Linked DNA regions of Homo sapiens: region 2 is linked to region 1. A link means that fine-mapping ties the variant in region 1 to the expression of a gene that starts in the linked region. Tissue or cell type: whole blood. Region 1 holds a variant in brackets; the other region holds the start of a gene. All regions are shown on one strand. Distances are between the middles of the regions.

Region 1 (14,389 bases):
TTTGAGTACATCTGTGCTCCACCCAGAAGGAAACCCCCTGGTTTTTAATCTCCACCCACTTAGCACTATTTTAAACATTCCAATGTTGTTGTTTTTCTCATTTCCCATCCCATAGCATATTAGGGAAAACAAATTAGAATGAGTGAGATTTTGTAGAAACAGGAATGCTAGTAACAAACAGTAAGAAGAGCAGTAGCTAACAAACTGATAGGGAGGAGACAGGAAATTTGTTAAAAAACAGGCACTGGCATTAGAAATGCCTTGCAATTTGGAACTTTTAGTGCAGGGCAAAGATCCATAGCCATAAATAGGGGTAGTCCCAGAGGACACTGCTATGATACTGTTATCTTAATAGTATCCCTGAATCATCCAGAAAAGTTCAGTTATAAGATGATTGAAATCTTTAAAAAAATGTTTTACAGTAAAAAAAAAATCAGAATCACAGATACAGGTGTATCTGGGCAGGTGTATCTTTGATTACACCTAGAGATAAGCATTTCAGTTATCTAAAATACTTTTATGAAACACTGCATTAGAAGATGAGGCTGGATAAATGAACTGTACTCATAAATACAAAACAGGATGAATTAATTTGATCTTACTGTTGGTTACTTTTCTTAACCACCCCTCTCCTTGAGTACCATTTATTTTTCCTCCCTTTCTGGCTTACCTGTACATTTTATAGATACGTACTATTTGGTGTATATGTACCGTAATACCTCCCCTGTATTCAGATTTGTAATAGGAAAGACCATTATGCTTTTTGCTCTCTATAGGATTCATCAGTCCATGTGCCCTGCCTGTCCACCGCTGGGCATTCCTTCCCCAGATGGGGCTCCATGCCCTATTCCTGTCCCTACTTGGACTGAACCTATGACTGCCAATTCTTGCTTGTCTCAAGGCAGGGTATTTAAGGCTATGGATTCCCACCCTTCCTCTCATTCTTGTAATTTTTGGTTACTGACCAAAAGAGAAACCCTTTACTGGGTATTATAGCCTTTCTATTGGCTCCTGTTACTATTAACCATACTTTCAGCTCTGTCCTTTATTCTTTGAGACTGGTGTTCCATTGTGTTCCAGTTCTCTTGTATCCCCAGTCTCATCATTTTCCAAATATAACTGAATCACAGCTCTTTCCCTCAACCTCAGGCCCATACACTGCTTATGAGAAGGTTCATCCATCCATTCATTCAACAAATATTTCAGTGTCTGTTACACGTCAAGCACTGTTTCAGGTGCCAGAGAGGTAAGAGTGCACAAAACAGAAGAACATCCCTGCCCCTAAGCAGCTTATAATATAGCGCATTCTTGGGGGCAGAGAGGGCCAGACGGTAAACAAGTAAATTTAGAATATTGGTGAAATACATATAAATATATATAACACTGAAAAGTACGATGCAGAAAAATAAAGCAAGGTAAGGGAAGTGCGTGTTGTTGGAGTGGTGACATTTTAGCAGGGATCTGAGGAAAGTGAAGGAGTAAGCTGTGGCAGATATCTGGAGGAAAAGAACTATAGGTTGTGGGGACAGTGATTTTCAATGCCTTGAGGCAGGGCATTCTTGGTGTGTTCAGGGAAGGACAAGGGGATCAATGCAGTTGAAGCTAAGTATGAGAAGTGAGGCTGGGCATGGTGGCGCACACCTGTAATCCCAGCACTTTGGGTGGATCACTTGAGGTCAGGAGTTTGAGACCAGCCTGGGTGTGTGCCTTTAGTCCCAGGTACTTGGGAAGCTGAGGCAGGAGAATCACTTGAACCCAGGATGTGGAGGTTGCAATGAGCCGAGATCGCACCACTGCACTCCAGCCTGGGTGACAGAGTGAGACTCTGTCTCAAAAAAAAAAAAAGAAGTGAGAAGAAGGAAAGGTCAGAGGTCAGAGAGGTAGTCAGGGCCCAGATCATGTAAGGCCGTGGAGCCCATTATAAGAACTTTGACTTTTATTGTGAGTGAGGTGGGAAAATATTGGTGCATTTTAAACAGAGAAGGGACATGACTTGAGTTTTTGTTTTGTTGTTTTTAACTTGAGGAAGACATTAAAGAGGGACAAAGATGAAGTCAGGGAGACCAGCTTAGAGGCTACTGCAGCAATCCGGATAAGACAGGACAGTGGCTTGGGCCACCGTTAAAGTAAAGTAGTTGGATTCTAGAATATATTTAGAAGATAGGATTTGTTCATGAATTTTATGTAGAAAGAAATGGAGGCTTTCTTCCATATTTAAAGATCTGGGTGGACTGGCCAGGATTCCCCTATCTATCCATTGCCACATTTGAATCTAACTGTTACTTTTTCACTTCCATAGGAAAATGAAACAAAACTCTCCTTTTTTGAACATCTCACTGTTGGGCTTTGTTGCCTCTGCCTTTCTTAGTCTTCTTTGTCTCTTGTTCTTCGCTTCAATCCCACATGCCTTAGAGACTTTGACGTTTCTCCATCGTTACTCCTGCTGTTGCTCTGGGAGACTTCCACGTCCCTTCAAATGCCGACTTGTGAGCGGCCTTAAAGTTCCTTGTGTGACTCAACTGTGATAACCTTTACAGCACTGTAAAGGTCTCTGGCTGTTCAGCTCTCTTATACCTCCTTCTCTTCACTCTCTCAGAGACTATAATTTTGCCTTGGTGTCTGAATTTTTTATTTATCCTACTTCCATATTTACCTGGCAAAGCCCTAATTCCAAATTAATCCTACAGTAATCCTCTGCACGGATACCCAGGTAGTGTCTGAATTTTTTATTTATCCTACTTCCATATTTACCTGGTAAAGCCCTAATTCCAAATTAATCCTACAGTAATCCTCTGCAGGGATACCCAGGTAGCTGAACAGTGTGGTGGAAAACTGGGTAAAATGGTAAATGGATCAGTTCATGGTTTCCAGTCTTGTCTCAATCCTGACCAGCATTACTTAAGTCTTTCACTCAGTGACTCTCAATCTTGGCTGCATATTAGAATCATCTGGGAACTTAAAAAAATCCTGGAGCCCAGGCTACAGAGACCAGTTAAATCTGAAATTTGGAGGCAGGACCCAAGCATCAGTAGTTACTCATGTTCTTTAGGTGATTCTAATGTGCAACTAAGATTGAGAACCACTACTTTAAACTTGTTCTTGAAGGATTTTCAGTTTCCATTTCCCTGAAAAGCTATTCTATTCTTTCACTAATCTCTAAAAAACCCTCTACCTAACTCCGTTTTATAAACCCTTGGCAATTGATCCCACTTCCTACTTGCTAGAAAAATTGAAGCATCTATTGGTGAATCCTCTTTAATTTTTAGTCCCCATTTAGTCAACTATACATTTAATTAGGGCTTAGATAAGCCAGGCACTGTGGTAGGCATGGGACATAGAGTGGTAAATGGGACAGTTATAGTCCGTGCCTTCCTGGTGCTTATGGTCTATCCCTGCATCCAGGCAGGTCAATTAGGCAATTACTGGACATGGTACATGCTATGGGCGCATGTAGGAAGGGCCCTAATCCAGACTTAGGCTCTGGAGAAGGCTTCCTCCCCTTTACTAACTCATCTATTTCACGCCCTTCTTTCCCGTTTTCCTTCTCGGAGGAGGTATCACCCTTGCTCCAGTGGAGGGAGAATGCTGCCTTGCAGGGCTTCTGACCATCCCCCTCATTTTCTCCTCTAGACCTTCATGGGTTGTTCCTTCTTGTTTCTCTCTATTACTTCATCCCCTCACTGTAAAAATACTCCAACAGTTATCACCTTAAGACTAATAAAGCTTGATTTTGCCTCTCCTTCTTCTCTTCTAGACTTCACCACCAGGCTTCGTGAACAAGACCTGTTCAATGCCTGCTATTAATCACCTGCCTTTGCATTTTGGCTTCAGCCTTATCATTGCTTAATTTCTTCTTCCTTCCAGTCACAGAGGCTTCCAGGTTGGCTGAATTTGCTGAAGACCATTCCACTCTATGCACTGAACCTCTCTGATGCATTTGACCCTATTCATCCCTGCCTCCCTCTTCAGAATTTTTCCCACTTTTGTTTTCATGATCCTGCACGTACTGAGTTCTCCTCATGTCTTTTTGACTCTTTCTTTTTTTGTCTCCTTTGTGAGATTCCATCTTTTGGCCTTCCCCTTAAGTGATGGTATTCTCCAGGCGTTTGTCTTTAGACCACTATTGTTCTCATGCATCTATTACTGTGGTTTTCATCACCAACTAGATGTGAAGTTCCAAAAGCTGTATCCTTAGCCTTGACCTTCCTCCCAAGTGCCTGCTAAACATCTCCACCTGAATGTCCCCTGGGCTTGTCACATTGGGATTTACTTTACCAAACTATCTCTGCCCTTGTTCAGGCCTATAATGATTTCTCATTGGGATGATGGAATTAAACCCCACTCGGTCTTCTTGCTCTTAGGCTCACCCATCACATTCATCCTTTGCATAGCTGATTTGCCTATAGCTAAAGCTTGCACTAAGGGGATTCTTCTGGTACAGGCTTGGGGTTTTCAGTGGGTAGCACTCTGGTGACCTGTGTGGTTGAGCTCTTTTACATATCGAGCTTATGAATAATATTTCACCTTTTCAGCGCTTCCTATTGCCTATGCAGTGTCTTTCACACTCTTCCTCATTTGCACTCCTTTCTCAGTGCATTTGACTATCCTACAACCCCAAAGTACCCAATTCCTACTGTTCACCAAGAAATAGCTCAGTCTCACATCTTTCACAAAGCCTTCTTATCATTCACACCTTCATTTATTTATTCACTGATATTTATTAGACATTTGCATTGTTGCATTGTCCCAGGCAGCAAACAACATTCCCAAAAGGAGGAAGGTAAGAACACACCTGAAGGCATTAGAGAAGTGCTTCTCAAACTATCTGTGGTAATAGACCAACTGGGTTTTTAATTTGTTTTTTTCTTTTTTTCCCTATCGTGGATCAGTAAATGGTCCTATTGCACATAGTGAATATGCAGGTTGCACCACATGTGACTCACCTCACAAATTCAGCAACACTTGAACTGGTCTATGCCTTGTTCAACAAGCATCACATACTTGGATGTCACAGCAATGTCAAATTGCTATAAACATTTCTAAATGCTTACACTTGATTTCTGGAGTTAGCTGGTACCAATCTAGTAAGAAACCATTTGTGCGTCAGCACCAGTCACAGGCCACTGTCCTAGAGTGTTTGCTATAGATGCCATGGTAGAAGAGGGGACAGCTTATGTCAGGGGCTCAGAAGAGACTGGACAGTTTGCCTGGGTGGTTTAGCTGTAAGGGGAACAGAAAGCATGTTAGAGGAAGGCAGAATTATGAAAAGTGAGCTAGGCTTCCCAGCCAGCCGAACAAGGATTTTTAGTCATGAAGAGAAACTGGAGCATAGATAGAGGGGGAAGGAGGAGCACTTGGGCTTGCTGAGTTGGAGGATAGAGGGGACATAGTGGAAAAGGTTGCTGTTAGGCAAGAGATGAAGCTAGAGAGTCACGTGGGGTTGAGATCATTCGTTCAGCGAATACTGTTTGGAAGTCAACCATGTGCCAGACCCTGCCTAGGAATTGGGGTTAGAAGTCCAGCAGGGACAGTTTTGCTCTGCTAGAGATTAGAAGGGTGCTAAGCGTCACCACAGAGTTAGACTTTTTAGTAACTGTAGGCAGACTTTGAAGGATTTTGAAGTAGAGCATGGTGTGACTGCTTTAATCCTTGGGAAGATGACTCTGGTGGCCTTGTGTACAGTGGATGGCTGTTCATTTAGGAAAGTTAGTTGAAAGGTGATTTCAGTAATCTTGGCCACACAAAGACGGAAGTGAACTAGGCAGTAATTATAATTATTACTCA[A/G]ATTTACCGAGAACTTTGTATAGGGCTTAAAGCTACAGCATACTAAAAACAGATAATTCACTAGGCAGACAAGAGAACATCAACACAAGACAGACTTATCAGTAGACAAACTTATTAGTTCACTTCCTTCTGTGTGTGGCCAAGAGATGATAAAGCTCAGGAAGTAGCAGTCAGGGGTTGAGGGGAGGAAGTGGAGTTGAAGGAAAGGGGAAGGGACTTTTAGGAGAAATATCATAAAGATGGCATACACCACAGGTCTTAAGGGGTCAGTGGAGTTTAAGGATGGCTCACAGTTTCTGATTTGTGATCAGGTTCGTGGTCCAACTCATTGGGAGAACGAATAATAGAAGGGGAGGGTGTTGGAGAAGTGAGAAGTCAAGAGTCTAAAGATGTCGTACCAGTTAGGTGCCTTTCTGTGTTCCTGTAGTGCTTTGTGCTAACTTCTTGCATAGAATTGTCCATTGGGCTGAAGTACTTATGAGCTCCTTGAGAATGTGTACCCATTTTTCTATCCCAGACACTGGTCACAGGGCCTGGCATGTGGAACAGGCTTGACAAATGGTTCTTAAACTAAACCGAAAGATAGTGTATTAGTTTTCTATTGCTGCCATAACAAACCACCACAGACTTTTTAAGTTCATTGAAATAACACAAATGTATTATCTCACAGTTCTGTAGGTCAGAATTCCAGGTTGGCACAGCTGGTTTTTCTGCTCTGTGTTTCACAAGGCCCAATTAAGGTGTTGGTCAATTGGGCTCTTATTAGGAGGCTCCATTTGGAGCTCCAATGGGAGCTTGGAATCCATTTCTAAGCTCATTCAGGTTGTTGGCAGGATTTACTTTTTTTGTGGCTGTAGGACAGAGGTTCCTGTTTCCAGGCTGTCTGTCAGAGGCCACCCTTACCTTCTAGGAACCTCTCCCCAGTCCTTGAATGTGGGCCAGTCCATCCCAGAGCCAGCAAAGTTGCACTGAATATTCATGCTTCAAATCCTCCTTCTTCCAGCCAGAGACAGTTCTCTACTTTTAAGGATGCATTTGATTACATCGGGCCCAACATGATATTCCAGGGTAAATCCCTATTTTAAGGTCTATACATTTAATTACATCTGTGGAAACCCTTTTGGACATATTAGGCGCGGAGGGGAGAGCATCATTTTGTCTACTACAATAGTAATTATCCACCAAGTCAGGTAGGCATTATGATCGTGGTTTTTTTTGTTTTGTTTTGTTTTTCTCTCGAGACAGAGTCTCACTGTCACCCAAGCTGGAGTGCGGTGGCTCGATCTTGGCTCACTGCAACCTCCACCTCCCAGGTTCAAATGATTCTCGTGCCTCAGCCTCCTGAGTAGGCAGGATTACAGGCGCCCGCCTGCCACCACGCCGAGCTAATTTTTGTATATTTAGTAGGGACGGGGTTTCACCATGTTGGCCAGGCTGGTCTCAAACTCCTGACCTCAGGTGATCCACCCACCTCGGCCTCCCTAAGTGCTGGGATTACAGGCATGAGCCACCGTTCCCAGCCTATGATCGTGGTTCTTAAACACTTATGCATTCTAGCACCTCTCATTTGTACAGGGAAGCAAAAGGAGACTGAATTTGCCCAGTGTCAGATGGGAATGGGAACCGAGATAGATCACGACCCTTCAACTTCACTCTTTCTTCTAACCGTCAGTACATTGTCCATCTCATCCATCTGTCTATCCACCTATCCCATCTATTCAACTAGTAGTAATTCATTCATTAATTCATAAACATTTGAGTAGCTGCTTTTTTAAAAGAGTCTATGCTAGGTTGGGAAATGAGGAAGAAAGTGAGATACAAAGATAACACCTGATTTCTGTCAGTTCATTTTTAGTATATTGAGGTCTATATCAAGCTCTGCTCTCCTCTCCTCTCCTCTCCTCTCCTCTCCTCTCCTCTCCCCTCCCCTCCCCTCCCCTCCCCTCCCCTCCCCTCCCCTCCCCTCCCCTCCCCTCCCCTCCCCTCCCCTCCCCTCCCCTCTCCTCTTCTCTTCTTTTTCTTTCTCCCTGTTGCCCAGGCTGGAGTGCAGTGGCACAATATCTCATCCCACTGCAACCTCCACCTCTCAGGTTCAAAATGATTCTCCTGTCTCAGCCTCCCGAGTAGCTGGGATTACAGGTGCCCACCACCATGCCCAGCTAATTTTTTTGTATTTTTAGTAGAGACGGGGTTTCACCATGTTGGCCAGGCTGGTCTCGAATTCCTGACCTCGTGATCCACCCGCCTCAGCCTCCCAAAGTGCTGGGATTACAGGCGTGAGCCACCATGCCCAGCCTCAAGTTTTCTTAAATCCATGCTGTCTACTGATAGGTTTGTCTTGTGTTGATGTTTTCTTCTCTGTGTAGCGAATTATCTGTTTTTAGTAAGCTATAGCTTCAAGCCCCGTACCAAGTTCTCAGTAAATGTGAGTAATTATTATAATTACTGTTTAGTTTACTTCCTTCTATGTATGGCCATAAAATTTAGGAACCATTACTACATGTATCTTATCATTGCTTTCATTTTTAACTTTATTCAAGTAACCAGTGTTACAGTTGCTTATTACTCTTTCCAGAGATTTGCGCACATACAAGGAAGTATTTGTCTTGTGTGATTTTTAGTGATTATTCCATAGCAGCATAGGTAAAGCTATTTCATTCCTTTATTCTTTTAATAACTTTTTTTTTTTTTTTTTTTTTTTTCTGAGATGGAACCTCACTCTGTTGCCCAGTCTGGAGCACAGTGGTGCAATCTTGACTCACTTCCACTTCCGCCTCCCGGGTTCAAGCAATTCTACTGCCTCAGCCTCCAGAATAGCTGGGATTATAGGCGCCCGCCACCACACCCAGCTAATTTCTATATTTTTAGTACAGACAGGGTTTCATCATGTTGGCCAGGCTGGTCTCGAACTCCTGACCTCAAGTGATCCACCTGCCTCGGCCTCCCAAAGTGCCAGGATTCCAGATGTGAGCCATCACACCTGGCCCTTTTTATAACTTTATTCTTTTTTTAAGGCATAGCATTCCATTGTTCAAATATACCAGTTTTTTTAAACAAGTCTCATATTGGTGGACATTTGGATTGTTTCCACTTCTTTTGCTATTAAAAGATTGCTACAATAAAAAAATCTCCTGTGTGTATCTTTCATGCAAGTATATATATATATATATATACACACACACACACACACATATATATACACACACACATATATATGGTGTGTATATATATGGTATATATATGGTGTGTGTGTTTATATATGGTATATATATGGTGTGTGTGTATATATATGGTATATACATATGTGTATATATATGGTGTGTGTATATATATGGTGTGTGTGTATATATGTGTATATATGTATATATATACTTAATATATATACTAATATACATATATACAAATATAAACTAATATATATACTAATATATATACATATATATATACACATATATATACACACACACACCATTTGTTTTATAGTTGATATTGCCAAATCACTCCCATAGAGGTTGTACCAGTTCACATTCCCATCAGCAATGTCTGAGAGTGCCTGTTTCTCCAGACTTTGACTAACAAAGTGTGTTATCAGACTTTATGGTCTTGGCCAATCTGATAAGTAAAATGATATTTCACTCTAATTTAAATTTGTACTTGTCACATTGTTGAGTAACATTGGACATCTTTTTGAATACATTTTAGAGCTATTTGTATTTCCTTTTCTGTAAACCCTCTGTTTTTTGTATCTTTTTTTCATTTCTCTGCTGAGAAATTTTTTTTTTTTAATTTGTTGAAAGCCTTTATATATTAGAGAAAGTAACCTTTTGGGATATGAGATACTTATGTTTTCCTTTCAGTTTCATTTCTCTTTTGATTTTGTGTGCTTAAGCTTTTCACTGTATAAATATTTAAAGTGGTCATATTTAATCTTTACATCTGTGACTTCTATGTTTTGTGTCATTGTTGGAAAATCCTGCCTCATTCCAGTATTATAAAATAATTAGCTCAGGTTTACCAATTATTTAACTTTTAATTTTGAAATAATTATAGATTCGCAAAAAGTTGCAACATTACTACAGAGAGATCTGTGTAATTTTCATTCAGTTTTCCCCAAACACCGGGTATTTTTATAATTTCATTTTTACATTTGAATTTTGTATTTATCTGAAATTTGTTTTAATATGAGATATGGATTTCAATTAATTTTTTTTCCAGTTGGCTACCCATTGATCCTCACATAATTTGTTGAATAATCTGTATTTTCCCCAATAATTTAAAATGCATGTGTATCTACTATGAACTAATTCCTGCATCTACTGGTTAATTTCTTAAATATTTAAAGTATCAACTGGAAGAGAAGCTGCCATGGCATTATCATTGTACATTTTTCCAAGGGCCACATGTTGAAATAACCAGTGCTGACTTTGTGTCAAAAATCCATTTATAGTGTAATTTGGCCTATTTGGCTAGAACTGTGTGGTATTGTGGGTTGTGGTGGGGTATAGGTAAATAACATTTATTCTTTGCCCTCCAGGAGTTCACCTTGTCTTATTGATCCCAATCTATTCAGGTAAAGTCTTTAGACTATGTAGTGCTTATGGGTAACCAATTAATCCTCCCTATACTCTTTTTTTTTTTTTTGAGATGGAGTCTCGCTCTGTTGCTCAGGCTGGAGTGCAGTGATGCAATCTCGGCTCACTGCAACTTCCGCCTCCTCTGAATCCTGGTAGCAATTCTCCTATCTCAACCTGAGTAGCTGGGACTACAGGGGCCGCCACCATGCCCGGCTAATTTTTGTACTTTTAGTAGAGATGGGGATTCATCATGTTGGCCAGGCTGGTCTCAAACTCTTGACCTCAAGTGATCCAGCTGCCTTGGCCTCCCAAAGTGCTGGGATTATAGGCATGAGCCACCACACCTGGCCCTTCCCAAAACTCTTCTAAATGACATATATTATCTCCATTTTGTAGGTAATAGAGACTCAAGGATTAAAGTTGTTCCGATATCCAGTCACAGCAAGTTGGCAGAGCTCAAGCCCAGGTTCTGGTCTTTTGATTACTAGCGTTATTCCACACCATTCCAGGACATGCCTCAGATCTGCCTGAGACGTCTTTTCACTCCATTGACCTCAGATAAAAACTGCCATAACTTGTGAGCTACATCATAACTCTACTATTCCATCTTGGCTTTAGCAAACCTAAAGACTTTCACCATTTTTATTTTATTTTTAAAATAAATATTAAACACCATGGTGAAACCCCATCTCTACTAAAAAGAAATAGAAAAATTAGCCAGGCATGGTGGCGCAAACCTGCAATCCCAGCTATTTTTGAAGCTGAGGCAGGAGAATTGCTTGAGTCCGGGAGGCAGAGGTTGCAGTGAGCTGAGATCGTGCCATTGCATTCCAGCCTGGGTAACAGAACGAGACTCTGTCTCAAAAAAAAATAAATAAATTTTATTTATTTATAAAATAAATAAATTTTATTGCGTGTATTTGAGATTTACAATGTGATGTTCATGTTTACTTCCTACTTTTTAATGAAAGGGTTAAGCAAAGGTAGATAACTTCTGCAAGGTTTTTCTGATTTCACTCTGAGTGATGCTAAAGGAAAATGAAATACTCATCTGCTTATTTCATTACCTGAGTGTAAGTAGTAGATTTAGTGTATATTTAGGTTATTTAGATTTAGGTAATCCTAAAATTCTTTCCAAGCTGTGATTCTTGCTAGTATTTTCCATAGTTTTATGTTCCCATATAGGAGGAAGTGAACAAAAACATTTAAAGAATGATAAGTATTTTCATGTGGGTTATTTAGAGGGAAAACATGCTACAAATTCCTTAATCCAATTAAAATCACACTTGTTACAGAAAGTAATGTGGACCGATTATTGTATAATAGTAGTATTGATTTCAGTTCATTATGCATTAGCTTGGTAGCATATGTTTAAAGGCTACCACTTAAAATTCTGTATATGCTTTGAATTTAAGACTATCAGCTCATATGCTTTGTTAGGGTCCTCTTATAGTTTCCTGGCAATTAGCTGCAATGTAGTTCATGTGATGTTTTTCATGGGATAGGGATTTTAGGAGCAGTAAATGGGGATGGGGTGGAGGTGAGTCTCCAGCCCTGTATTTTCTGCTTACCATTCACAATTAAGCCCAGCATAGGGCTTAGTGTGGTGTTAATAAATGTTGGTTGATTGATGAAATTCATTTCACCATCTTGTTCTTCTTACTGCCCTTCACACTGGGAAGCTGTGTGCTATCATGACGAGCATAGACTGGAACCCTGAACTTTGAACACTTCCTCTACAGCTTAGTAACTGTGTGATCTGGGGCAAGTTCCTTAACTTCTCTGAGCTTCAGTTTCCTTATCTGTAGAATAAAGATAATGGTATTTCTCTGATAAGAGCTGCTAGGAAGATTGAATGTGATAATGTCAGTGGAATACCTAGCACAGTACATGACCCAGAACCTTCAGTTAGTGGGCGTTATTGTTATTCTCTTGGATAACTTGGGTAGCAACTCACTATACTCCCTTGCCTCAAGAAGTAGAGACAATAGTTGGTTTCAGGGGATGTGCCTAGTTGTACTGCTTGTGGTATGCTGGGTCAGATCCCTTTGTTTCAAGAAAACTCTGCAATCTCCTCACAGAATCTGTTAACACCTCTTTGACTTTTGAGCAATACTCCAAGATGACTACTGAGGCTGGATGAGAAGGCTGATTGTCATCTGTGGTTCTGCTTCTTCCTTATGCATTTTTGACCCATTTCACAGATTTCATAATAACTCATTATGAAAATTTTATTCTTTTCAGAACCACCGATTTTTAAAACTTTAATCAAGACAGCTTTCTTTTTGCAAAAGATTTCAATAATGAGGATTCCAGGTTGGCACAGGCTGATTTGGGCAACTGAGAAAAGTCTTTCCGACCTTTGTCAGAGAAGTAGCTTAGCTGAGTTCGTTCTTGTTGCCACCTTGCTTTTGAATCTCTTGGTTAATGTATGAAAGCAGAGGAACTGCTTTCATCTGAGGCACACAGTGGCAAAGTTCCCATGGCAGGAAATGTTTGTTCTTACAAATCTCATACATGGTGGTCACAAGGGAGACCTTCGTATTTTGTTTTGCTTGTCTGGGCTTTATCATAATTTGATGATTGTTTCAGTGTGTTTGCCTGACAGCTAACTATCTAAGAGAAAAGACTGTGATGCACTTGCCCTTAGGGACCTTCTTAGTCAGCCCCAATCTACCTGTCGAGTTTATCTCCTGCTTCCCCTCTTTGCAAATCCTTTTTGTACTACAACCAGGCTAGTGGTCTTTTAACAAGTGTTCTCTGAAGTAACAATCCCTGTTTCTGTTAACTGAAAAAAAAAAATTGATATAAACAAAAACAAAGAGTTGATGACTTCTGAGATTGGGAGGGAGGAATGGGGGCAGGTGAGAAATAACTTACTAAAGGGAAATAGAGATTTTTACATTGGAGGGCAGTAGGGAGTGTTGAATGAGAAGAGTGGAGTCAGATAGTGGAGCTGAGAACTTGGGACTTGATGTAATTTAGAATAGGGAAAGGGGAAAAGGTGATGAAAGTGGTATTTTAGGACTATATTTTTCTCTTAATAAGATTAACCCTAAGCGTAGATTTAAGGGATATATGAGTAGAGGCAAGAGTTATCCAGGCCCAGTTATAGTAATACACGTGTCAACCGAAGTTCTGGTTGTTAGCAGTGAGAATTGTGGGGAACATTTTCATTTGAGAAAAGTCAGGTTGTAACAGCTCACAGGTTGGAGGTAAAAGAGCACAGTCAAAGATGATTCTAATGGCTTGGAGTAAAAGAAAAGTCAAGCCATTAACGCCTGTGAAGGTGACGGATCAATAAACCTGTTGGTTGAAGATAGAAGCTGGGCAAGATGAGTTCCTTTTGGGATTAGTTAGGCTTCCTGTGATGGTGGAATATCCAAATTATAATGTTTATTGGCAGTTGGAGAAAATGGACTCTGGCATGGATGAAAGGTTAGGGTTCAGAGTGTAGACTTAGGAGTCATTACCATTGTTTTAGGAACAAGTAGATAGAAAGCAAAGAGAGCACCAAGGATTGAAGGGAGAAATCCTTCAGTGCAGGGGTATGAAGAAAATAACCAGCTAAACAAAACAAGCAAGAGCTGAATGATGGAAAGGCTTGAGGCCAGTGAGATGAATGCTATACTGTGGAAGCCAAGGTCAGGGCTGTGAGAAGGAAGGAGAGGTCAACAATGAGGGACTGCAGGCAGATCAGAGTAGACAAAAACTTAGGATAAGCCTTTAGGTTTAGCAAGAGGGAGGTTCTCAACCTTTGTGTACAATTCCAGTGAGAGAGGAAACCTTTAACCAAGCAAGATGATTATCTGAGAAGAGTCACACCTTCCATGAGGAATACCTTTAGAGATGCTGTGATCCAGAATCCCTGCCATGCTAAATCACAGTCTGTCATATCTACTCAAGAACAATTCCTTTCCCTTATTCCATTATCATATGCCTATTCTTTTTTTTTCCAATTAAATTTTGCAGCTTGTCCTCTCCAGCCTAGAGAGGGCTTGTCACTATTGTTATTGAACAACATAGGTCAC
Region 2 (16,494 bases), 25 kb before region 1:
GGAAGAATATCAAGAGGTTGTCCGCCCTTACCTAGCAAAATATCAAGGAAAGGCCAAAGGAAGAGCTAACCATTTCCTGCTTTCTGCAGGGTGAAACTGTAAATCCTTCTCTGAGTACTATCTTCTCTGAGTATTTTATCACTTGAGGCAGGCTAACAGTTGTAACAGATTAACTACAAAGTTTCAGAGGCTTAATGCACTATAAATTTGTTTATAATTCCTAGAAGATCCTTCCCCTCCACAGGGTAATTTGAGAACACAGAATCCCTTCCATCTTGTGGCTCCACCACATTCAGCATATAAGGCTTCCTTCAGGGTGATGCAGGAGAAAGAACACACAGGATTTCACCTGTTAAATGTGAATGAGCCAGGCCTGGAAGGGACAAGCAACACTTTGCTCGAATTCCATTGGCCAGAATTCACTTTCATGGCCACTGCTAAACTGTAAGGAAGACTGGGAGATATAATCCAGCTGCGTGCCCAGGAGAAAGAGGAAACAAATCTAGTGAATAGCTAGCCATCATCTGCTATAGCTGTGAGTGGGCATGCTTTTCATTTCTACTCAGGAGGCAGAGGTTGCAACGAGCTAAGATCATACCACTGCACTGCAGCTTGGGTGTCAGAGCAAGACCCTATCTAAAAGCAACAAAAACAACAACAACAACAAGTTGGTGTGGTGGCTCATACCCTCATACCTGTAGTCTCAGCTACTCGCCTGAGGATCACCTGAGCCCAGGAGTTTGAGGTTGCAGTGAGCTATGACTACTGCACTGCCCTCTAGACTGGACGACAGAGCAAGACCCTGTCTCTTAAAAATAGGATAGAATATAGAAAAGAATCTGGCCATTTCTATGCCCATCACTGTTTTCCCTTACAATAACTATTTTCTTAAGCTTTCTGAACAAGTCTAATTTTTCCTCATGCTAATCTAGAAAAAAACAGCTGAAACAAATGAGCTGTAACTAAATGACTCACAAACTTTGCTTTGGGGGATATGTCACAGCTCCTTCACTCTCATTTCTTAGAATGCTTTATCTGCACAATTGCTTAAAAATAGATAGGGAACTCATTTTAAATGCATTAAATGGATATATAAAACCAAGAACAACAGAGATAAAAGATACCATTTTTTAAATCACATCCATTTGCAGGGTCAGGTCTTGATGATCTATGCCAAAGAAAAAGAAACATGAGTAATATAAAGCAATTCACAATTTCTTTTCTTCACTTAGGAAGTCAGTCATGGCCAGGCACAGTGGCTCACGCCTGTAATCCCAGCACTTTGGGAGGCCAAGGCAGGCGGATCACGGGTCAGGAGTTTGAGACCAGCCTGACCAACATGGTGAAACCTTGTCTCTACTAAAAATACAGAAAAATTAGCCGGGCGTGGTGGCACGCGCCTGTAATCCCAGCTACTCAGGAGCCTGACGCAGGAGAATCGCTTGAACTCGGGAGGTGGAGGTTGCAGTGAGCTGAGACCATGCCATTGCACTCCAGCCTGGGCAACAAGAGCGAAACTCTGTCTCAAAATAAAAAAAGGAAATCAGTCACTAACACATATATGCTCATCTCTACTCAGTCTGATTTTAAAAGCTGGCCTCCACTGTCATTTATGCCAAAAGTAAACATTGATTGACTGACTACAGTAAACACTGATTAACTGACTACAGATTATACCATGATAAATCATTTTGAAAACATACCTTAAACTGTAAAATAAAAACATTCTAATAACAGTTTAAAATGTACATTTCAATCAAAGACTATGTTCCTTGGACAAGTAAAAATAATTTGACTAATTTGATATTTTTGTATGCACCCAAGGTTCACAAATATTGTCTAATAAATATAATCCCCTAGGTCAGGCTCGGTGGCTCATGCCTGTAATCCCAGCACTTTGGGAGGCCAAGGCAGGTAGGTCATCTGATGTCAGGAGTTCAAGACCAGCATGGCCAACATGGCAAAACCCCGTCTCTACTAAAAATACAAAAATTAGCCGAGCATGGTGGTGGGCGCCTGTAATCCCAGCTACTCGGAGGCTGAGGTGGGATAATTGCCTGAACCTGGGAGGTGGAGGTTGAGGTTGCAATGAGCCAAGATTGCGCCACTCCACTACAGCCTGGGTGATGGGGCAAGACTCCCATCTTAAAAAAAATAAATTATATATATGTGTGTGTGTGTGTGTAATCCCCAGTGCCTCGTTTTGCTTACCACAATTTTATTAGGATAGCATTGCTATGGTCTGAATGTTTCTGTCCTCCTAAATTCATATGTTCAAACCTAATCACCAATGTGATGATATTAGGAGGGAGGGCCTTTTGGAGATGATTAGATCATGAGGATAGGAGCCCTCACACATGGTATTAGTGCCTTTATAAAAGAGGCCCCAGGTTCTCCTTTCATAGAGCCATCAGGGCTGGGTTCAGTGGCTTATTCCTATAATCCCAGCACTTTGGGAGGCCAGGGTGGGAGGATGGTTTAAGCCCAGGAGTTCGAGGCCAGCCTGGGCAAAATGGCAAAACCCCATCCCTACAAAAAAATACAGAAATTAGCTGGGTGTGGTGGTGCATGCTGTGGTCCCAGCTACTTGGGAAGCTCAGGTGGGAGGGTTGCTTAAGCCCAGGAAGTTGAGGCTGCAGTGAACTGTGATTGTGCCACTGCACTCCAGCCTAGGTGACAGAGTAAGACCCTGACAAGAAAGGAAGAAAGAAAGGGAGGAAGGGAGAGAAGGAGGGAGGGAGGGAGGGAGAAAAAGAAAAGAAAGAGCCATTGATAAATCAAGAAGGACTGCACCAAACACTGAATGTGCTAGCTGCTTGATCTTGGGCTTCCTAGCCTCCAGAACTGTGAGAAATCCATTTCTGCTGTTTATAAGCTACTCAGTTGTGGTAGCAGCTTGATCAGACTAAGACAAGAAGTCTTTTGGAAATATTCAAAACCTATAAAAAATTTAAGAGCTGGGCATGACGGCACATGCCTCTAGTCCCAGATACTCAGGAGGCTGAGGCAGGAGGATTGTTTGAGCCCAGGAATTTGAGGTTGTGGTGCACTATGATTGCATCTGTGAATAGCTGCTACACTCCAGCCTGGGCAACATAGTGAGACTCCATCCCTAAAAAAAATTTTTTTTAACAGAGTATCATAGAATATGTAAAATCTAATATGTAAATCCTAATGTTTTTATAAAATCTTCTAAAATGTGATAGCCTATTAATAAAAGTATTCTTTGTTTTTTTCTTACCCCAAATTGATAAGCCTTTCAATCACTACACTAAAAATGTAATGATTATCCAAGAAAGTAATCATCCAGGATTGATAATAAAGTATACAGGCTATCTCTCCAAAAGCAGGCATATCCAGGGAATAAAAATAAAATATACAATGTTAAAAGACACAGATAAAACTCATTGAAATTCTTTTCATTGGTTATTTCATTGCCATCCAAAGTATGGCTGGCCTTGTACTGGAGGGGCCTCAAAATTTGTGTTTTTTAGCATTTATCCTCAGTGATTATTAAAATCAGGCTAATTTGGGAAACACCACCCTAGCATAAATGAAACTCCTCCAGGAAAACAGAGCCTCCATTTGATAAATTGTTATGTAAACCTATGAGGTACATTAGACATCAGTTAACTATTATTACATAAAACTTAGAGTAACACATAGCACAAAAAAGTTATGAGTAACATGCAGTATAAATAACATATAGTGTCTAGTACAAAGTCCCAAAACTCATGAGAGTTAAATGGAGTTTTAAAGTGTAAATATTTTTTATGTTTTCTTGTTTATTGTTTCCATTAAATTTCTAAAATAGTTTTTCCTGATGGTATATTATTTACCCATGCAATAAAATGTAAATTATGATAGTAGTTTTATCTCTTTGAAGAGCAGTTTATTATTATGAAATGTAGGACATGAGAATTTTAACTAGATACTATTATGTTAGATTTGGCCTTCACAAAACTGTGATATCAAGATAAACTGATTGAATAAACATTCAGATAATATAGTTGGCACAGAAAGCATTTTTATAATATTTGAAGTCAGATCAAAGTTAATTTCATGATCATAATAAGTGGCAATTCTTCACAGTCAAAAATCATGAGTATTTTCAAATAACTGAGGTTTACAGGAAAATAATTATATTGATTGTTATAATAACTTGAGGGATGTTCTCATTCTGTATCTCACATTGTCTTGGAGATATTAATTTTACATATATCTTAGATATGTGAACAGGATTACCAGAAAGAAAATGATTTTTCTGAAACTCATAGTTTGCATTTCAATGCCAAAAAAAATTAAAAGGATGAAGCCTTTAAGTCTGGCAGGCTACAGATACCTTGTGGTAAAGAAACAAGATGTGGGAATGGTTGATAGTCATTTACTCAATGAACCTATCATATTGCAATTATGTTCTTCCTCTGATGATATCAGAGTTATCATTATCTCTCAGAGTTATCATTATGAAATCTATATAAAAAAATAGGAAAACATTTTAAAGCATTTAAATATGAAACTCACAAAAGTACATTCCACAACTTTTCTAAATTTCTTTTTGCCATCTACATATTTATTTAGCACCCACTGTTTGTAGGCTAATATCCTAGGCACCACAGATATAAAGAGAGAGTAGATAAAATATCTTCCCTTTAGGGCTTATAGCACAGCTGGGGAGGCAATGATAAGTATCAGAAAAGATAGGTCACATGTAAGGTGTCTCAGCAACTCTTAACAGAATCAGTTAAGAGCGTGTGTTAAGATGCACATTCCTTGGCCCACTCTCCAGACTCACTAAATCAGCATCTCAAAATAATTTTCAGGAACTTGCATAACATCCCAAGCATTGTGACTCTCAGTAAAGTATAAGAATCACTGGTAAAAGTTAAATCCATATGATACTGACATAGAGTAAGAAGTTGACAGGGTTCAATTTTCTCTTAAAGAATAAAATATAGTGAAAAAAATTGTAATTATTCACAAGGGTTATCGTTGCCTCAAGAGAATACCAGAGGCACTCTACAAATTACTAATAATTTAGTAAAGACAAAGGATTTACAACCATTAAACAAAAATTAGCGTTCTTATATTTACATTTAGAAAATGTAATTTAAAAATACATATACCAGGCCAGGCACGGTGGTTTACACCTGTAATCCCAGCACTTTGGGAGGCTGAAGAAGGAGGTTCTTGAGACCAGGAGTTTGAGACCAGTCTGGGAAACATAGCAAGATCCCGTCTCTACAAAAAATTAAAAAATTAGCCCCCCATGGTGGTGCATGCCTGTAGTCCTAGCTTCTCTGATGCTGAGGCTGGAAGATCGCTTGAGCCCAGAAGTTCAAGGCTGCAGTGAGCTATGATTGTGTCACTGCACTGTAGCCTGGGCAACAGAGTGAGACCCTGTCTTAAAAAAAAAAAACGTTGATAGTAGTGGCAATAATTATAAGGTTCCTAAGAATAAGCATAATAAAATATGTGAAAGACCAACTATGGAGATATATGTTCATGGATGGGTCACCTCAATATCATAAAGATGACAGGTTATCCCTAAATAACTTTAAGACAATTAAAATAAAAATCCTGCCATAGCTTTTCATTGAAAACAAGAAAGAAAGCTTCTTTTCACATTTACATAAAATAGTAAAAGTAAAAGAAAATATAAGGCAGGACACATAGACAGTGGAATGGAATCAAGAGCCTAAACACAGAACCCCGTGTGTGAGAATTTAGCAAATGGGGAAAGGAGGGATAATCTCTTCTCTATTCTCACTCTTGGTGCTCTTAGCCATTCTCATGCCTTTCAGTGTCATCTGGAAACTGACTACATCCAGATTTATATTGCTAGCCCAGACCTCTCTTTCTTGACCTCCAGACTAGTGTAATCAACTACCTACTTGACATTCATTCCCATTTAGATAGGTAACAGGTATCTCAAATTAAAGCAATGCCAAACAACTCCTGACCTGCCCTTCTCCCTACATTTTTCTTTCACAGTTTTTTTTTCTTTCAGTAAATGGCATTTTTTTTCTTCGAGTTACCCAAGGCAAACACCCTGGAGTCATCCTTGACCTCTTTTTTCTCTCTCTCATAGCCCATATCAAATTCTCAGGAAATCCTGTTAATATTACCTTCAGAATGTATTTTTTTAAATCTTCTTTCACTACTACCAACTTGGTCAAAGCCACCTTTATCTCTCATCTGGATTTCCCAAGAGCCTCCTGATCATCGTCTTACTTCTGTCCTTCTTCTCTGCCTCCATACCCCATGCCCTATTCTCAAAAAAGTTGCCAAAATACTCTTGAAAATGTCAAAGTATGACAGTTTTTTACTCAAAATGCTTCCTTAACTCTTTGACCTCATTTCTTACTGTCCTCACTCACTGAAATTCATCTGACATCTCCCCTTTGCTGGTCTATGAATGGAATATCCCACACCACACCCCCAGAGCTTTTAGCCTTGCCATTCCCTTTGAGTGGAATGCTGTTACTGGATAGGCACACAGGTGTGTCACCTTACCTGTTCAAAATCTGGGCTGAAATGCCTGCTTCCACTGGGGCCTTCCCTAACCACTTTAACATTTAACACAACTCCCCACCTCCAAAAGTCTCCATCCCCTTCCCTTCTTTATTTTTCTTCATAGCACTTATCAAACCCTGAACATCACATTTTTTTTCTTTTTTTTCCTCTTTTTTTTTTTTGAGACAGAGTCTAGCTCTGTCGCCCAGGCTGGAGGAGTGCAGTGGCGAGATCTCTGCTCACTGCAACCTCTGTCTCCCAGGTTCAAGCGACTCTCCTGCCTCAGCCTCCCAAGTCGTTGGGACTACAGGCACGCACCACCACACTCGGCTAATTTTTGTATTTTTAGTAGAGACGGCGTTTCACTGTATTGCACAGTCTGGTCTCGAACTCCTGACCTCACGATCTGCCCGCCTCGGCCTCCCAAAGTGCTGGGATTACAAGCGTGAGCCACTGCGCCTGGCTGAACACTACATTTTTTTTACTTCTTTATTCATGTATTGTCTGTCATCTCCAACTAGAATGAACGTATAGTCCCTGAGAACGGGGAATTTGTTATCTATTGAAACTTCAGGGCCTGGAACATAGCAGCACTCCAGTATTTGTTAAATAAATGAATCCATTTGAGCTTCTGCATATTTGAAATTTCATAAGTATATATAAATGGTAAATTGTGATAGACTCAAAGGCTAGTATCATTAGGCAATTGTCTCCCGTTCCCAAAAGACTTCCTAAGTCTACTAAATGATCTGTTTTTAATATGAAAGCAAAGTTATCTAAAAGAAAGGAGAAATCTTTAGTTTTTTTGACTTCGAGATTCTTTGCAATTTAAGCTTTTTTTTTTTTTTTTTTTTTTTTTTTTGCTTTTCTTTCAATGGACACTTTCGAAGTTTTACATAAAAACATTAAAACCTCTTGTTTAATGTAGTGGGATTAAGCTGCCGAAGGCAATCCCTACATGTGAGGAAAATATGCTTCCGACACCCCAATTTTTTTTTTCTCCCTACCCATCCTCTCTGGTGGTCCTGACGCTCCCAGCCCCTTTTTGTGTTTCTTGATTCCATGCTGAGAACTCGCAATACAAACTCAAAGCCCACATTTGTGAGGTGGTTGGGTCAGGACTGCAACTAAAAATGATTATTGTTTTTTAGGTTTCTGGACAGTTCAACACCAGCCTTTGGTTTTGCCTCAGAAGCAGGGAACTTCTCTAGGCCCCTATTTTGCCTTTCAGCTATTGATGATCCAAATCATACCAGCGATTAGGAGGATCATTACCAGACACAAGGCCAGGTACGTTTAAAAAATAAATAAACCAAGCGCAGGTGCACACTCCGAACGCTCATCCCCACCCCCACTTTCCAATCCAACAGTAGGTAACGAGAAATGAATTTTCTAGACTTTTTTTCCTGCAGCAGTTGCTGTTACCAGAAACAAAGTTAGATGATATACAATCTAATCTTCATTGCTCTAAAAGTCCTCTCCCCATGCCCCCCAGGCTGCCTCAATTCTCTAGTTTCTTATTCCTTATAAGCAGGGGATGGAGCTGAACCAAGTCGGCCTTCCCCTCCCAGGGCCTTCTCCTCTTGGTCTGGCTTCCATTTCAGATGCGAATTAACCCTCCCAATACCCTTTCAGAAGCAAGGAGTCCCCTTTTTCTCCGCCTCCAGCCTCAGCTAGGTTTTCCTCATTTCGGATTTTTCTACTGCTCATTCCCAAATGAGTCACGCATGACGACAATTTCCACTCTGCTATGTCAGCCTGGAGATGTCCCCCAAGTGATGGCATCTGCTCTCGGAAAGAAAGGTCATCGGTGCCACGACCAGCCCCGCTAACCCAGAGCGGCCGGTGGGCCCCAGTCCCGAGAGTCAGGGCGCGCGGCGGAGGCGAGGCCGGGGCGGCCTCCGCCCTCCCGGCCGCTCCCCCTCGCGCCGCCCCGGCTCCTCCCTCCGGCCCTCGGCGGGCACCTGGCGGCGGCGGGCAGGGGGCGGCGCTGCGCGCGTCACGCGGCTGGGTGGGATAGCGGGCAGGTGACACCCGGCGGCCTCCTCCCCTTTCCAACCCAGTCGGCGGCCGGGACAGCGGGGGCCGCTGTGAGGAGCTCCGCGCTCGCGCTGCCAGTCGCCGCCCTCTCTCCCGCGCGCGCCCGGCGCTTCGGCTCCGCTCCCTGTGCGGTGAGTGCGGGGTTCCAGGCCGGCGGGCAGGGGCCAAACTTTCCCGGCGCGCGGAGGAGAAGAGACTGGGGAGGGAGGCAGAGCCGAGGGGAACGGCGTCGGGAGTGGCCGGATGGAGGAACTTGGGCGCGGCGCGCGAGAAGTGGGACCCGGGTGCGGGGGCCCCGGGAGCGGGGCCAGGCCCTCCCTGGGCTCGGGAGGCGCTTGGGAAGTTCTGTCCCCGCTGCCTGCGCGTGGGGAGGACCGAGGCCCTTTTCGCCGGAGCGCGGGGCCGCGGCGCTCACCTGCGCCTTCTCGGGAGCCCCCACCCGGCAGCATCCCGAAGGGAAGGTCGGGCCCGGTGGGCGCGCTGCGGAGCGGAGCCTGGACTGGGGTCCCGCGCGGCGCTGGCCCTGCGGAGCGGAGCGGGAGGGGCAGAGGTGCTCGCCGGCGGGACTGGGAGGGAGAAGGACCTGCTCGACCTTGGACGCGGAGGTCATTTTCCCAGCTCCGGGGTCTGGCCTCGCTAGCCACCCCCCCAAATTCCGGAGCCCCTTTCTTTCTGTTTCCTTCCTTCCCCTTTGGGCGCTTTTTTTGCTCCCGCGGCCAGATGAACTTGGGGCGCTGTCCCTTCGGCTCCCCGAGCCGCATCCTGTCTTGGTGGCTGCTGCTGGCCGGGAGGAGGCTGATGAATACAGAGCCGTGGAACAGGTCGTGCCGGAGATGGAAACAGGAAAGCCTGTTGTTTTGTCGTCCCAGGTATCGTTGGTTCTTTGGGAAATGGGCTTTCCCAGGTTCGTTGGGAAATGGGCTTTCCCAGGTTCGTTGGGAAATGGGCTTTCCCCCTTCAAGTCAGAGCTGTTTCAAACTTCACCCGGTGCGGACAGAGCGCTCTTTGGAGCTCCCTGGGGAACTCGGGACGGGAAGGAGCGGGTCTTTACACCTGTCCTGCTCCCAGTGTAGTTAGTCCCGCGTCGACTGAAGAACAGTTTTAGCGACCCGAGTTCCTCGCCAGTGGTCTTTTCCCTCTTGCTACGATCTCCCCTCGGAAAGCATGTTCACTTAACCCTGTGCTCTCGGATTACCCTTTATTTCATTCCTCACTTTTATTGCTTACGTGCTCCGAAAGGGTCATCGATACCTGGTGGCTGCCTCTGCGTTCTTACCACGCACCCGCTTATTCATTCCCTTTCTTTGTAGTTTCTCTTCGTACTACTGATCAGAAATTGGTCTCCCCAAGGTCACCGAGAACTAAATAAAATCCACCCCTCACCCCGTGGCAGACATTTATCAGTGCTTAGGTGCCAGGCACTGATGTCAGTTCTTGTGTAAAAGCTTTTAATCTTCACAACGATCCTGGGAAGTAGATATTAATATTATTCTCATTTTAATGATGAGGTAACTGAGGCACGGAGAGGTTAAGTAACTTGCCCAAGGCCACACCCATCTCAGCGGTAGGAGATTCCAGCTCTGGGGTTCTGTCTCCAGCACTGGAGCTGTTAACCACTGTCCTACACTGCCTCACCTAGAGTTCGTTTGCTCGTCCTTATTTTCTGAAGTCCCGTGCTGTTTCAGGCATCGTTGACCAGGCTGTCAATCTCAGGTCCCTCTTTTCCTTCTTATGTGTCTTTATACTAGTTTAGGATCCCCACACCCTCCCCCTGCCCCCGCTTTTTTTTTTTTTAAGAAAAATAGATTTTTGGGACTTTGTTACTTCATCTATCACCTGTATTTATCTGGCTTAAGATTCTGTGCTTTCCATGTCTTCTTCAGTTTTAGTGTAACGTCTGTCAGTGCACATTATAATATTCCGCTTGGACTTGCCCGGCTTTTCCCCAAAACAGCTCCAGATGCTCATTTCCATTAAGGGTCCTGCCATTATCCTGGTCTCCAAGGTGCCGTGCCATTCCTCTCCCATTCGTTAAATATCTTCTATCCAATTTTTACATGGTGTCTTCTAGCCTTTATCAGTCTCGCCCACTCCCATCCTCTCTTCACCACTCTCCCTCTTCCCCACTTTGAACACATATGCCCTTCTCTGCTATTTGTTATCATCTTTTATGTTTGCTTTGCACAAAAAGATTGCAAACAGCTTAGGACATTAAATCTTCAGGCCTTACAGCTAGTAGTTGCTTGATAAATGTAGAAGATGATACAGTATAAATTTTGGTAGCACACATCAGGCAGGTTTGATGATGGAAATTTTTAAGCCAGGTTTTACAGGAAGTTACGGAGTTTGCATTGGTAAACGTGTAGGAGCTGGTAGACATTGTACATGAAGGGGAGAAAAGCCTGTGTTCACTCCATTGTCACAAACAGGTACCCAGCTGTTCTGATGAAACATTACATTTAGAGGTATAATGAAGCAAATCAGCAGAAAACCATTTATCCTTATCTTGACAAAACAAAATATGAAAACACATAAAGTTAAAAAAAAACCTTTTTATTGAAAAACGTAGCACATACATAAAAGTGCATAAAACATAAATGGACAGATTAACACAGTAGATGTATTCAGCAATAGAACGACAGTGTTATTCTGGCCATAGATAGGCTACAGTCAGGCCAAATAGGAATCTTTTCACAAAAACCTGTATAAGGTGAAGTGGGCCTGGACTGCTCCCAAGAGGCATTGCCAAGAAAGAATTGGCTGTGCATGGAGAGGCTTGAGGAGAGAGAAAATAAGACTGGAAATTGGTACCAAAAGGATAAGATCAGGGAGCCAAGAAGAGAGTTCAGACCCACTGAACATAATTCTACCACAATGAATATTTAACCAGGTTGCCTTTGTCTCTCTCTTTTTTTCTATGCATATTTTCCTTCATCATACTCCATATAGTATTTTAGTATTCTCAGGCTGGGCACAGTGGTTCGCCCCTGTAATCCCAGCACTTTGGGAGGCTGAGGCAGGTGGATCACCTTAGGTCAGGAGTTTGAGACCAGCCTGGCCAAAATGGTGAAACCCCATCTCTACTAAAAATACAAAAGTTAGCTGGGTGTGTTGGCACATGCCTGTAGTCCCAGCTACTTGGGAGGCTGAGGCAGGAGAATCGCTTGAACCCAGGAGGCAGAGGTTGCAGTGAGCTGAGATCATGCCACTGCACTCCAGCCTGGGCAACAAAGGAGACTCTGTCTTAAAAAAAAAAAAAAAAAAAAAGGAAAGTAATTTTTTTTAGTATTCTGTGTTTTCCATATAATACCTAGTAAGCATTTTTCATCTTATGTAATTTTCAGAACTCATATTGTTTGTATTCTAGTAATTATAATGTGATTTACTTAACTAAAACTCTATTGTTGGACAAGTATATTAGCAACAAATTATAAACAACCTAAGTTATAGTAATACTTATCTTTGCAGTTGTATCATTTTACAAGTTGGGACTCATTTCCTAATGATACTGTTCCAGAAGTAGAATTACTTCGTCAGCAAGTATGGTCATTTTTATGGTTCTCAATACATGCTGTCAGATTTCTAAAAGCGATTTTAAAAAGAGGATCAATGCATTTTACCTAACTTCTCTCTCTAGGAAGTAACAGCAATTCAATTAAACATGAACAGTATTATTAAATGTTGTATTAGTTTCCTCAGGCTGCCATAACAAAGTACCACCAACTGGGTAGCTTGAAAAAACAGCAATTTATTGTCTCACAGTTCTGGAGGCTACAAGTCTAAAATTAGGGTGTCAGCAGTGTTGAACCCTTCTGAAAGCTCTGAGGGAGAATTTGTTCCATGCTTCTCCTAGGTTCTGGTGACAGCAGCAATCTCTGATATTCCTTGTGCTGGCATCACTCTAATCTCTGCTTCTGTCTTCATATGCATTTTCCCTTTGTGTCTGTGTCTTCACATAACCATCTTATAAACACACCAGTCATATTGGATTTAGGGCCCATCCCACTCCAGTATGACCTCATTTTAACATCTGCAAAAATTCAATGTCCAAATAATAGCACACTGTGAGGTATTGGGGGTTAGGATTTCAACATATCCTCTTTGGGGCACACAATTCAACCTGCCATAGGGTTTTCAAATGTGCATAAAAGAAAGCGCCTATCTGCAAATAATTTCTAGGCAAATTGAGAAAGTAGGATTTTTTCTAATTTTTGAGATTTGTTTATTCTCCATGATGTGCCACTTGTGCTTATCAGTTTTAAGATACAGAAGGATGCTCTTTTCTCCCCCCGAGACAGGGTCTCTCTCTGTCACCCAGGCGGGAGTGCAGTGGCACAGTCATGGCTTTCCGCAGCCTCAATCCCCAGACTCAAGCAATCCTCCCACTTCAGAGTCCCCAGTAGCTGAGACTACAGACACATGTCACCATGCCTGGCTAATTTTTTGTATCTTTTATAGAGACAGAGTCTCACTATGTTGCCCACATTGGTCTTGAACTCCTGGGCTGAAATGATTCTCCTGCCTCAGCCTTCCAAAGTGCTAGGATTACAGATGTGAGCCATTGCACATGGCCTGGAAGGTTGCTATTTACCAAACACGGAATTCCGGAGCCATGGTAAATGGTAGCATGTTAAACTGAGAATAGCCAGAATTTCAAGAAGATACATCACGTAGCATGGAAAGAAGCATGCCATAAACACACTTTTAGAAATATGTCTTACATGTGTTTCAGTGACTCATCCAGTTTTGACCATGCACAGTTGCAAAAAGTTGAAAACTAATACCAGTTGGGCATTTTATATCACTGGTCTTTGAAAAAATTTGAAATTTCCATTATTCCTAATTGATTTCTAAAAGTACATATTATTACATTGGCAAGTGAAATCACTCTTTTTGTAAATGATAGAAGTTGGCATACCATCATAATTTCTTTTCCTTTCTTTTTTTTTCTGAGACGGAATCTTGCTCTGTCGACCAATAAAGTTGTGCGATCTTGCCTCACTGCAACCTCTGCCTCCCAGGTTCGGTGATTCTCCTGCCTCAGCTTCCTGAGTAGCTGGGACTACAGGCTCATGCCACCATGCCCAGCTAATTATTTATTTATTTATTTTTGGTAGAGATGGGGTTTCACCATGTTGGCCAGTCTGTTCTCGAACACCTGAACTCAGGTGATGATCTGCTCACCTCAGCCTCCCAAAGTGCTGGGCTTACAGGCGTGAGCCATCATGCCTGGCCCATCATAAATATATATATATATATATTTTTTTTTGACACTGTTTTGTTCTTGTCGCCTGGGCTGGAGTGCAATGGCGCTATCTCTGCTCACTGCAACCTCTGCCTCCTGGGTTCAAGTGATTCTCCAGCCTCAGCCTCCTGAGTAGCTGGGATTACAGACACTCACCACCAAGATGGCTAATTTTTATATTTTTAGTAGAGACGGGGTTTCACTATGTTGGCCAGGCTGCTCTTGAATTCCTGACCTCAGGTGATCTGCCCTCCTCAGCCTCCCAAAGTGCTGGGATTACAGGCAGGAGCCACCACACCTGACTCATAAATATTTTTAAACAGACTATTATTCAAATGAGATAAGTTTCCACATAGCTTACAAATTCCCCATGTTAAAGACAAATCTTAATCAATCTGGATAAGCAGCTACTTAAGCCATGAACACCAGCAGCCCTGCTTCTTGGACTTTCTAATGTAGGGTAAAAGAGCCAAACCTAGATAAAACTGGGGAGTTTCAGAAGCTGCACACTCAACAAACATTTGAGTGTTAGCTTTGTGTCAGGCAAAGGGGCTGGCAGATTGCTAAAGCCAGTCCAGGTCCATGTGAGTTATAGACAAGTAAATGTAAGTTACAAAATTACAGTTCAGTATGATAAACTGTGCTGTGATATACACAGACCAGGTCCTGGGGAGGCAAGGCAGAGGCGGGCAGACAGGAAGTCCTTCTGAGAGGAAAGAAGGAAGAGTGCGAGTTAGGGCAGCTGAGAAATGGGACGAGGAGTGGGAAATAGAATCTAGGGAGAGAGTGCAGGTGCGATCAGGGAGATGCAGATACTTTAAAGTAACTAGGAAGAGGGTGTGAGTTGAAGTTGCCTAGGCATGCAGAGGCCAGGCTTACTGAGAGCATTTTTTGACCCCATAAAGGTTTTGGATTTTATCATAATGTCAGTGGGGAATCCTGGGAAGCCTGTAAGAAGGAAAAGGATGTGTTAAGATTTGAATCTCTCTGGCGCTTGCCATTTCACCTTTATGAAACCTCTCCTCCTCCCATCAGGCCTTTATCTCATTTCCCTATCTGATCTGGAAAGGACAGCTACCTTCCTTGTTTACATTAGATATCTTTTTTTTGAGACAGAGTTTTGCTCTTGTTGCCCAGGCTGGAGTGCAATGGCATGCTCTTGGCTTACTGCAACCTCCCGTGTTCAAGCAATTCTCCTGCCTCAGCCTCCCGAGTAGCTGGGATTACAGGCATGCACCATCATGCCTGGCTAATTTTGTATTTTTAGTAGAGACGGGGTTTGTCCATGTTAGGTCAGGCTGGTCTCAAACTCCCGACCTCAGGTGATGCACCTGCCTTGGCCTCCTAAAGTGCTGGGATTACAGGCATGAGCCACTGCGCCCAGCCTACATTAGATATCTTGATTATGCTTAGCTTGCATGTGAATTTTGAAACAGAAAATCAACTTCATGGGCATCATCTGTACCTCTGTCCTTACAGGATACTCAAGGCTGCATTTACATTTAAAACATCTTATTGAAAATTATGGGGTGAAAGGTTTGTCATCTTTTAGGCATAAGTAATAGTTGCAATGAATCTCTCTTTTTTTTGAGGTGGAGTCTCACTGTGTCACCCAGTTTGAAGTGCAATGTTGTGATCTTGGCTCACTGCAACCTCTGCCTCCCAGGTTCAAGCAATTCTCCTGGTTCAGCCTCCTGACAAGCGCCACCCCCACCCCCCACTCCCCCCCCACCCCCCCGCCCTACCACGCCTGCCCGGCTAATTTTTGTATTTTTAGTAGAGACGGGGTTTCACCGTGGTGGCCAGGCTGGTCTCGACTCCCGACCTCAGGTGATCTGCCCGCCTCAGCCTCCCAAAGTGCTGGGATTACAGGCGTGAGACACTGCACCCAGCCTGCAGTGAGTCTCTTTACTTGTATTTTCTAATGAATCCTTTGAAGCCAGCAAAGTCTGGCTCATCATATGCACAGGTACAGAAAGGTGAAAAAAGCAGAAAGGGTGCTCAGGCTACACTGGTAGAAGTATGCAGCCAGGATTTAAACCTAGGTGTAATTACAAGGTTTAGGCTCTCCCCACTCTGAATACTAACTCTCTGGGTTGATATTTTTGAGAATATAGGAGGCCCTAGGACTCTGATATCTTACAATAGTTTTGTGAGGGCGTAAGGGCAACCATAAAAATAAACCCAATTTAGATTTTTTAGTGTCAATGGTAGAAACGTGAGATCTAGACAAAGAGAGTTTCACTAGCAGCCCTTAATCTAAATACAGCCCCATCCCCCAACTCTTCTCCTTCTTTCTGTCCCAAATTTTTGGGTTTTGTCCTAATAGCACGCTTGTGATTTGTTTGTGTGTTTATTTTAATTAAATGCTCTAACAAGGGCAGAACAAAAGTAAAGGGCACTTATTACTTAAGGGTGACTTATTTTAAGTCTGTTCAGGGGCTTCTCTGCCCCTCAGAGTCTTACCTGTCTTTTTGTACCTTCTTCAGGCAGACAGTGCTGTGTTGCATCCTGTAGGACAGAAAGATTTATGTCTCAGAAATAAACCAGCCAACGAACAATGTTGACCCACATTTTAATCCCTTTGCTGCTTATCATTCAGTTAGCTAGAAAGCACAGCTGATAGCTTCATCCTTCATCCTCTTCTTCGTGTGTGACTAACAGGTGTGACTTTAACTTGAAGAAAGAAAGAA

The links. PIP is the estimated chance that this variant, and not a neighbour inherited with it, causes the effect.
Region 2: it holds the start of ELOVL7, and the variant in region 1 is fine-mapped to the expression of ELOVL7 in whole blood (TOPMed, PIP above 0.99).

Annotation. Positions count from the first base shown.
Region 1 is chr5:60,812,417-60,826,805 of GRCh38, reverse strand. The region is part of intron 1 of ELOVL7 (ELOVL fatty acid elongase 7); the gene reads left to right. Among named protein-coding and RNA genes, the nearest start is that of ELOVL7, 25 kb to the left of the region's middle. RefSeq lists a silencer at 4,418-4,477. The variant A/G (reference allele first, on the strand shown) is at 5,785.
Region 2 is chr5:60,836,353-60,852,846 of GRCh38, reverse strand. It overlaps ELOVL7 (ELOVL fatty acid elongase 7), which reads left to right and starts at 8,578. Exons shown (of 9, transcript NM_024930.3): 1 at 8,578-8,687. RefSeq lists silencers at 8,357-8,656, 8,677-8,836, 8,847-8,906.